Regions from separate parts of the Homo sapiens genome. Here regions 2 and 3 are each linked to region 1. Evidence: fine-mapped expression QTL. A gene starts in region 1. Each other region holds a variant in brackets. All regions are shown on one strand. Distances are between the middles of the regions.

Region 1 (2,762 bases):
CACCTCTTGTAAGTGAAAAACCAAGTTCAGAGCCCAAAAAGTTTGACTGCATAGCCCATGTGTCTAGCCATTACTTGGGTGTTCCTGAATACTTTTAATTCCCCAACTACTAAAAAATCTCGTTACTAGGAGTTGGGTTATGCAGCGAAACGGATGAACAATGGATTATAACTGCCAGAAAGTCGAGGGTCTCATACTAGCAACAGCATAAAGCCCTGCTTCTTATTGGGAGCAAAAAAGCAGATTCTCCTTCCACAGTCTCCTTTTGGATTTTGCAACGGAGAACTCTGTGGAGCTGCTGGTTCACGTAAAAGATCAGGATCCCTCTCGTTGCCAGAGGACACAGAAGAGTAGGAAGCTTTTGTTTTCAGAAAGAAGGTCCTCAACCCCACCTCTTCGAAGGTGTTTCCCCGAATTTCTCGAGGACAAAGAATCTGGACTCCTTTGAGAGTAAAGTTTCCTTTCCACTCCCTGAAGAGCGGGGAAAACTTCCGTCTTTAGTCTCCTTCCGGTTAAACTGACAAGTATCACAATCCTTTCTCCCCTATCTTCGGGCGGTTCCGGCTGGGAACAATACCCTCAGGGTCAGGAGGACAGGATCTGAGTGCAGGCCAGCCAAAAAGGTGGGAACAGATGCTCCTTCCAACACCTAAATGCTTTTTTAAACGGTCACCTGGATGTGCAGCCAGGGCCAACTATCCCTCAGCTCCTCCCTGTCACAGGTGCGCGCTGCCCACAGATTGCCACGACTGGGGGGCTCCCTACCAGTCGCAGCCCACCCTCGCCTCAGGTCTTCTCTCGCGTCCCCGGGCGGCCGCCTGCGCTAACGACCACATGAAAACGTCTCAGCACCCAACACCATCTCTCTATTTCATCTCCATCAGCGATGGAGAGAACGGATTTTGCCGCGGCTGGGCTGCACAGCAGCGCCGCGGTCCACAGCAGAGCCCGCGACCGCCATCTTAGGCAGTTCCAGGAAGCGGCCATTTCAGAGCGCACCGCTTAGCCGCGGCGGCGGCTCTGCTTCTCACCTTCACCGAGGCCTGAACAGGGTCAACAGCCAGTCGTCGTGGACTGGAGGGGGAGGGGAGAGAGGGAGGGGAATGAAAAACAAAACAGAGAGGAAAGAAGGATTCGGGGACAGGGTGATGCTCTCAGCTCAGGGATATCGCCTAGGCCATCTCCATAGAGATCCGATTCGCGGCTGGCGCGGTCGCCGGTCTGAAGATAAATTTAGCACTCTAGAGCACCCGAACCCTACAATCTTCACGAGCGACTCTGCCGCCGCCCAATCAGCGCCAGATTTGCGTCCCGCCACCAATCCGCGCTGAGCAGCGGGGCGGGACCAAAGGAAAGGACCAAGCTCGGTTGAGGCGCGGCCCAGCCGCAGCCGCAGTCACAGCCTCAGCCGCAGCGGCCGTGCTACCTAGGTGATAGCGGAGCGGCTGGGTAGGAAGCAATTGTTCTCAAACTTCACTAGCCCCGTCGGCGCGGACGCTTGTCGAGAATGCAGATTCCTGGGTACTGCCAGATACGGTTGGTGATCTTGTAGGGCTGGAGTGGAAGCCATGAATCTGCATTTTCATCATTTCTGGCCCTCTGCCCGGGCTGGGGTGATTCACGGGGATTCGTAGTGGCCCCAAAGGAGCACGCAGAACCTCGGCTGCTGTGCATTTATCACCTCTTTTGTTCCCGGAGGCCGCACCCCAGGTCCAGTTTACACAGCTGCCAACTCCTTTTCTTGGTTCCCACTGGAATCTAGGAAGAAAACTCGCCCTTTACTTCTCCGCCCCACACCCGACGACGGAGTGTCTAGAGGTCTGGTCGGCCTTGGCTGTGCGGAGGGCTAGGCCTGACGAGCGGGCGCTGATGCGGCGCAGACCCCGCCGGACCTCTTGGTCGGCCCGGGGTAGGCTGGGGAGCCGCGGGAACAGGACTGGATAGGGAAAGCGGCACCGCAGCGTCCACGGGCAAGCTGAAAGTCCGCTTGATGTCTTTGCATCACAGTGGCGCCCTCCCCGCAGGAACGCCCGGCCGCCTGCACCGAACGTTTGCCTGCAGGGAACGGCCAACCCGCCCTGAAATACTCTTTTTGTGGGCTGCAGCTTTCGGGTATTTTAAGCCATGGTTCTGTGCCCTTCCTTGTTTTCAAAAACACCACAGCCAAAGGCTGCGGGTTGTGTGCTTTCATTTTGTGTTAAGTTCTGTGGTGGAGACCTGGAGTCTGTTTTTCCAAATAGGCACCTTGAAATAGATACGCTTCTTAAGCGGGGAAAGTACGAGTAGGTCCTATTATTTGCAATGTTTTAGCCTTTCCAGACTCCGTACAAATGACTAAATGAAGATTGGATCGTATTTTCAGGCACTGCACCAATGATAGAAAATTCTCAACTTGGGGTCAAAAGCAAGGGCAGCTTTCGTTTTTCTTAAATATGCTTCTGATCAAATATCTAAAGTGTTGAAAGAAACCTAACCCTTAATAGCACAATTTACAGGAGTGCATAATTTCCTAGGACTGACATTTAGTTCCAAATGTTTTAAAGTCAATTACAACATCATCTCACCCTATAGTAAGCTGTCCATATATTCTCATTATTATTTTTAAATTATTTCTATTAAATCAGCTTCATTTGAACTTTAACCATAAATGCATAAATCGTTTTTGGGAAGGGGGTACAGTCGCGCTTGAAGAGCAAGGGATTTTGTCATTGCGGGAGTTGTCTGGCTTCAGAATAATATTGGAATAATATATTTTCGTGTTT
Region 2 (2,762 bases), 62 kb before region 1:
AAAATCCCACTAGGTGGGAAGCCATTTGGCGGGTTTTGAGCCAAGTGGTGCTGTGTTGAGACGACAAAATGGAGATGAGGGCTAGGCAGGGAGGCCAGTTAAGGCTACTGTGGTACCTAGGTAAGAAATGAGGGTGGTGGTTGAAGAAATGAGTTCTTCAATTTCTAAAATGTTTGGAATGCAATCAACATGATTTGATGCTAGAATGGATGCAGAGTATGACAACAACTGAAAAAGTGTTGAGATCAGGCATCTCCCATTGGAAACTGAGAAGAAAAAGATGTCCTGGGAACAAGTTAACACTTTCAAGGAATGAGTAACTTGTCAAATGCTGCCTACAGGAGGATCAAAACCTACTGGATATAGCATTGGAGTTACTGGTGACCCTAAGAAAGTTTTGGTGTGGGGAACCAGGGGAGTGAAGCCCTACTGAGGCTTCAGAATGGGGAAAATTAGACAACTCTTTCAATTTTGCAGTAAAGGAAAAAAAAATTGGGGGCAGTAAAGACATGCAATCTTATTTTGAAGTCACCATGAAGTGAATGAAGATTAGTCACTACATGCTGATACTAAAGAAATTGGCAATCATGCAAGGTACATCCCAGTTATACCCAGATACTGCCATTCCACAGTATGGTAGATTATAAAGTACACTGTTAGGTGTCTTTAGAACAAGGTAGCAGCAGTATTATACATTCTCTATGGGTTGAATATTTTGAGTAGCTCTTGACATGTTTGGGGTGGGAAGATTAAAGCATGATTCTGTAAGCAATGACAAACCACTGCGTACCGGGTTTAGTTCATTTTTTATTGAGACGGAGTTTCGCTCTTGTTGCCTAGGCTGGAGTGCAATGGTGCCATCTCGGCTCACTGCAACCTCCGCCTCCCAGGTTCAAGCCATTCTCCTGCCTCAGCCTCCCGAGTCACTGGGATTGTAGACATGCACCACCACACTCAGCTTTGTATTTTTCTAGAAGAAAATAGGGTTTCTCCATGTTGGTCAGCCTGGTCTTGAACTCCGACCTCAGGTGATCCGCCCGCCTTAGGCCTCCCAAAGTGCTGGGATTACAGGCGTGAGCCACTGCACCCAGGCCCAGGTTTAGTTCTAAAACTTCCTTTAGCCTGATACCCTGGCTGAATTAGGCAAATTCTGGCAATAAGAATTGACTAGCTGATCCACCTAACCAGTTGCTCCTTTTGCTAGGTTAAAAATTAGTTTCCTCCCCTTCGTGGGGAGGGTTGGGCAGAGAAACAATTTACAGCCCCTTTAAAATTTAGGTAGGTTCATACAAATCTGTTTAGCTTTAAATTTTGCTGTACTCAAAGTACCCAAAAGCTTATGACTTGTTAAAACTTCAGGGGAAGATGAGTGCCATAATGCAAGATTTAGCTTCCCTGGCCCAAATAAGACAGACACAAAAACATTGATTGGTTCTGCCTCCCACCCACTGGAGCATGTGCAGGCAGCCTCTTCTGACTTCAAGGTTCTAATGGGTTC[G/A]GCAGTATGATAGTCTGCCTTGAGGGTCTCCCCAATCACCAAGAACAGGTTCTTAGGTGTTGACATCAACCAGGACTCCAGTAGCACACTTCAAGAGTCCCCATCCATGCCAATGTTAGAAGTAATCCTAGGATTGTCAGAATGTTCCAGGGCTGGAGACAAATCCTTCGTGTGTGTTTTTGGAAAACATGCAGAGGTTTAGTTGAATGAAGTCAATTTTACTGGGACACTGGAATTTTTCCAGAGGAAGCAGGGATCTTCCTGGACATTTGGGGCAGCTACTGGGAATGATGCTTGCAGGACAGCTAAGCTTATCCAGAGATCACCATGTATTTCAGTCTGACAAAAGATAAATTGTCACCAAATTTTAGTTGCTATGTGTAGCTATGTTCCTCCAAATTCATAAGACTTGTGATCTTTGATCATAAAAATCGTTTATATTGGTTAGTTTCAGTAACTCAAAGGAAATAAACACCTTAAATCTTGTGTCTCATCTTGAAGAGTCTAAAAATTCCTTCTGGAACCCAGGCTTGTACAGCAGAAAAACAAAAATTGGGAAGTCCTTAAGTCAAACTAAGGTGGGTCTCCTATACCTCAAAAACAAAGCTGACAATTCTCCCAGACTATGGATGCCATTTACAGCCACACATCACTACATCAAGTATCACAATGTTTATTGATAGATACAAGTATATAAAATCAGGGCATGAACATGACTTGATAAATTAAGTAGACTTAATTTCAATACTATAATAGGAGGGACCAATTCAAATTCTCACCATTTGTTTCACACCCACAAAAACCACTTCAAGGGCATTAACGATCTCTCAAAACTGATCAGTTTTGTGCAAGTAAACCATGTTTCTTTTAAAAAGACTTGTGCACTTGCCCAGGCTCAAGGATATTAAAATCTAGCACATAAAGCCCATTACTAGAGGTAGAAATACAGGCAATATACTATTACGGCAACAACCATCAATTACAGTTAAGAATTTTTCTGTAACAACCAAATGGATAATCAAATATTGCAACAACTCAAGTATTACTGAGCAAAGTGCATTTCTACAGTATTCAGTGTTGCTATTCAGTTTTCTAACTTAAAACAGCCTATGATAACTGGCAGCAAAGAAGGTCCTTGCAATAGACTGCCTCTGCTTGAGAACTTATGATGTAATTATTGCATGCTGCTAATATACTATCTAAACATTAAAGATACTCCTAAAATATTTGATGGTAGACTATGATTAAGACATTACACTACAAA
Region 3 (2,762 bases), 40 kb after region 1:
CCCTATCTGCGTGCACATGGGGCTGAGAGTGGGGAAGGGCTGAAGCACAGCATGGCAGAGCAGAAAGAGCACACCCTTGAACCAGACTAGGTTTCCAGCCTCTTCTATTCATGATCTGTGAGGCCTTCGCTTAATCTCCCCAGGTTCCCGTTTCCTCCTTTGTAAAATGGGGATACTAATATCTTCCTTAGGGCACTATTGTGAGGATTAAATGAGATCGAGTGAACAAAGCTTCTGAAGTCCTGCTGGGTGAACGTCTTCATAAGAGGCCAAGACAATAACAATGATGACAAATCTGGGCAGGTCAGATCAGCAGCACATCCAAGGTTCACTTCGAAGCCTGTAGGACGATGCCTGGCGCTCAATAGCAAATGTTAGTTCCCGTCTCCTTCTTCCTGCTTTCCCCGGGAGTGTTTAGTCCCTCAAATAGAATCCTCTGCTGACTGCATCTCAGGGATGCATGACATAATGGGAACAATGAGAGCTTCGGAAAGCCATAGTTTGCTTTTTTGGCCCAATAACCCCATCTCTGAGAATTAGCCTAAGAAATCACCTGAAAGAAAAAAAATGTCATTTCTGCTAAGAGTTTACTACAGAATCATTTGTAATAGCAAAAAAACCCTACCATTATTCAATAATGATGTCAGTTCAATTATAGTAATTCAACTAAATGAGTTATTCTACAGTCATTGAAGTGATACTTTCAAAGGCTATACAGCAACATGGAAACTGTTTATGATTTAATGTTAAGTCAAAAGATACAGGGCAGGGTATGGTGGCTCACTCCTGTAATTCCAGGACTTTGAAAGACCAAGATGAGAGGATTGCCTGAGGCCAGGAATTTGAGCCTAGCCTGGGCAACATAGCAAGACCCCATCTCTACAAAAAAATTTAAAAATTAGCTGAGCGTGATGGTGCATGCCTGTAGTCCTAGCTATTCAGGAGGCTGGGTGACAGGATCACTTGACAGGAGTTTGAGGCTGCAGTGAGCAATGACCTTTGAGAGGGCCACTGCACTCCAGCTTGGGTGACACAGTGAGAACCTGTTTCTAAAAAAAAGAGATACATACAGAATTGTGCCTGTACTATGTCATACTATGATACAGGCCTGTATCCATAGGAGGGGCACTACTGGGAGTTTCTGTCCCCTGGGTGGTTTATTTTTGTCATCTTTACACACTGGGTTTGCGTGTTCAGA[T/G]AGGGAAATTCTCTAACCTTTTACAACTTAGTTTATTTTTTGACCAGATATGAATATTTATTATGCATAAACCTTACAAGGCCAGGAGAGAGAGCACAAGAAAAAAAAGTAAAAACAGTTTGATTCTTTAAAGTAGCAAATATTGTGATGAATTTCAACAATGCATTTCAACTCCTGTTGATGGAACTTATGCAATAAATATTAATGATAATTTAAATTAGAATTATAAAATGATCCTTCTGTCTCTATTTCACTTTGCTTAGGAAAAACGAATTATTGGATGTAAGGTATTTAGAGTAAGGCCTCACATACAGTGAAAAATCAATAAATGAGAGCTTGTGCATCACGGCACTTATTACATGGAGGCACCATTTTTACACTAATTAATGCGTATATGGCTCACAGCAATGCAGTGGGGTGGGGACCATTAGTTTTCCAACCTCAGAGATGAGGAAACACTATAGAGAAGTTCCATCACATGTCTAGGGTCTCATCACTAGCAAGAGGCAGAGCTGGAATTCCCCTGTGGACCAGGCACCAGAGTCTTGGTCCTCACCATTTCACCATGGGGCATTCTCATTAAGCAAAGCTACTATCTTTAGGGCTTCTGGGAAAGAAAACCAAGTGAGTCCCTGAGCTTTTAGGGGAAGATGGTTTTTGAGTGCCTTGGCCCCCAGGGAAGGGAGTGATGAGGGCTGGAGAGGAGGAGGAGGGGAGCAGGCCCTTGTTTCTGCTCCTTCTGGAGTGGAGGGAATGGAGACATCAGGCATGGGGAGCCTTGGGAGGACTTATTTGTTTGCTGGTGCAGGGGCTAGGGGTAGAACATCCTCGACAGACATGTTGCTAAAGTCACACATGGAGTCAGGCGGACAAGGAAGAGAATGTGAGCCATGTGGGACCAGAGGGCTGCCTCTGCTCTTCAGCTGCTCTGAGCTCTGAGGTTTTAGAACTGAATGCTTGTCTGCGCTATTTGGAGCAGCATCCTCCTCCCTACACACAACTGAGAGTCCTCAAGTGCCTTGACTTGTGCTGTCTCCAGGGACAGAAAGATTCCCAGGTAGCTGTGAGACTCCCCACAGGCTCTGAGCCCCATCAGGGCTCCATTTGAGGCAGTGTTGCCTCCCTCCCTTCAGAAGCCTGAGAGCCTCCTCCACTCTGACCTCAATGAGATAGGGAGGGGGGTGGGTTGGTGTAACTGGGGCAAGACCAGCATGAAATCAGAAACTGAGTTCGGGACAGAGCTGTCCCAGGTGAGTGAGGGACTCCGAGGATCAGGACCTAAGTTGAGGCCAATGCCCGGGTGCATGACCAGGGAAGTCCAGGTGCTGGAATTGAAAGACAACGCAAGGCTGAAGGTGAGAAGCCAGGCAGGGACCCCAGGAACAAATCCCTCACCCTCCGCCTCTTCTGGGAGTGATCTCAGGGGAGGGGGTCTTCAGGGTCTGGGCCTGAATCATGGGGTACTCACCTGAGACCAGGGGTGACGCTGGCATGGCAGAAGCAAGTTGAGTCAGAAACATGTGACAGCTGTGGTCTAAAAAGGGAAGCCTAAAGGGTCACCAAA

The links. PIP is the estimated chance that this variant, and not a neighbour inherited with it, causes the effect.
Region 2: its variant is the best candidate, but not a certain one, in a credible set for the expression of ZBED5 in whole blood (TOPMed, PIP 0.55).
Region 3: its variant is the best candidate, but not a certain one, in a credible set for the expression of ZBED5 in monocytes (Quach 2016, PIP 0.61).

What each region holds. Positions count from the first base shown.
Region 1 is chr11:10,856,831-10,859,592 of GRCh38, forward strand. It overlaps ZBED5 (zinc finger BED-type containing 5), which reads right to left and starts at 1,223. Exons shown (of 3, transcript NM_001143667.2): 1 at 1,032-1,223. ZBED5-AS1 (ZBED5 antisense RNA 1) reads left to right here and starts at 1,387. Exons shown (of 3, transcript NR_034137.1): 1 at 1,387-1,536. RefSeq lists enhancers at 889-1,268, 1,422-2,059, 1,569-1,658, 2,060-2,695.
Region 2 is chr11:10,794,899-10,797,660 of GRCh38, forward strand. EIF4G2 (eukaryotic translation initiation factor 4 gamma 2) reads right to left here. Exons shown (of 22, transcript NM_001418.4): 22 at 2,156-2,762. Among named protein-coding and RNA genes, the nearest start is that of SNORD97, 5.3 kb to the right of the region's middle. The variant G/A (reference allele first, on the strand shown) is at 1,499.
Region 3 is chr11:10,896,466-10,899,227 of GRCh38, forward strand. LOC124902629 (a long non-coding RNA gene) reads right to left here. Exons shown (of 2, transcript XR_007062588.1): 1 at 2,667-2,762. Among named protein-coding and RNA genes, the nearest start is that of ZBED5-AS1, 40 kb to the left of the region's middle. RefSeq lists an enhancer at 2,757-2,762. The variant T/G (reference allele first, on the strand shown) is at 1,199.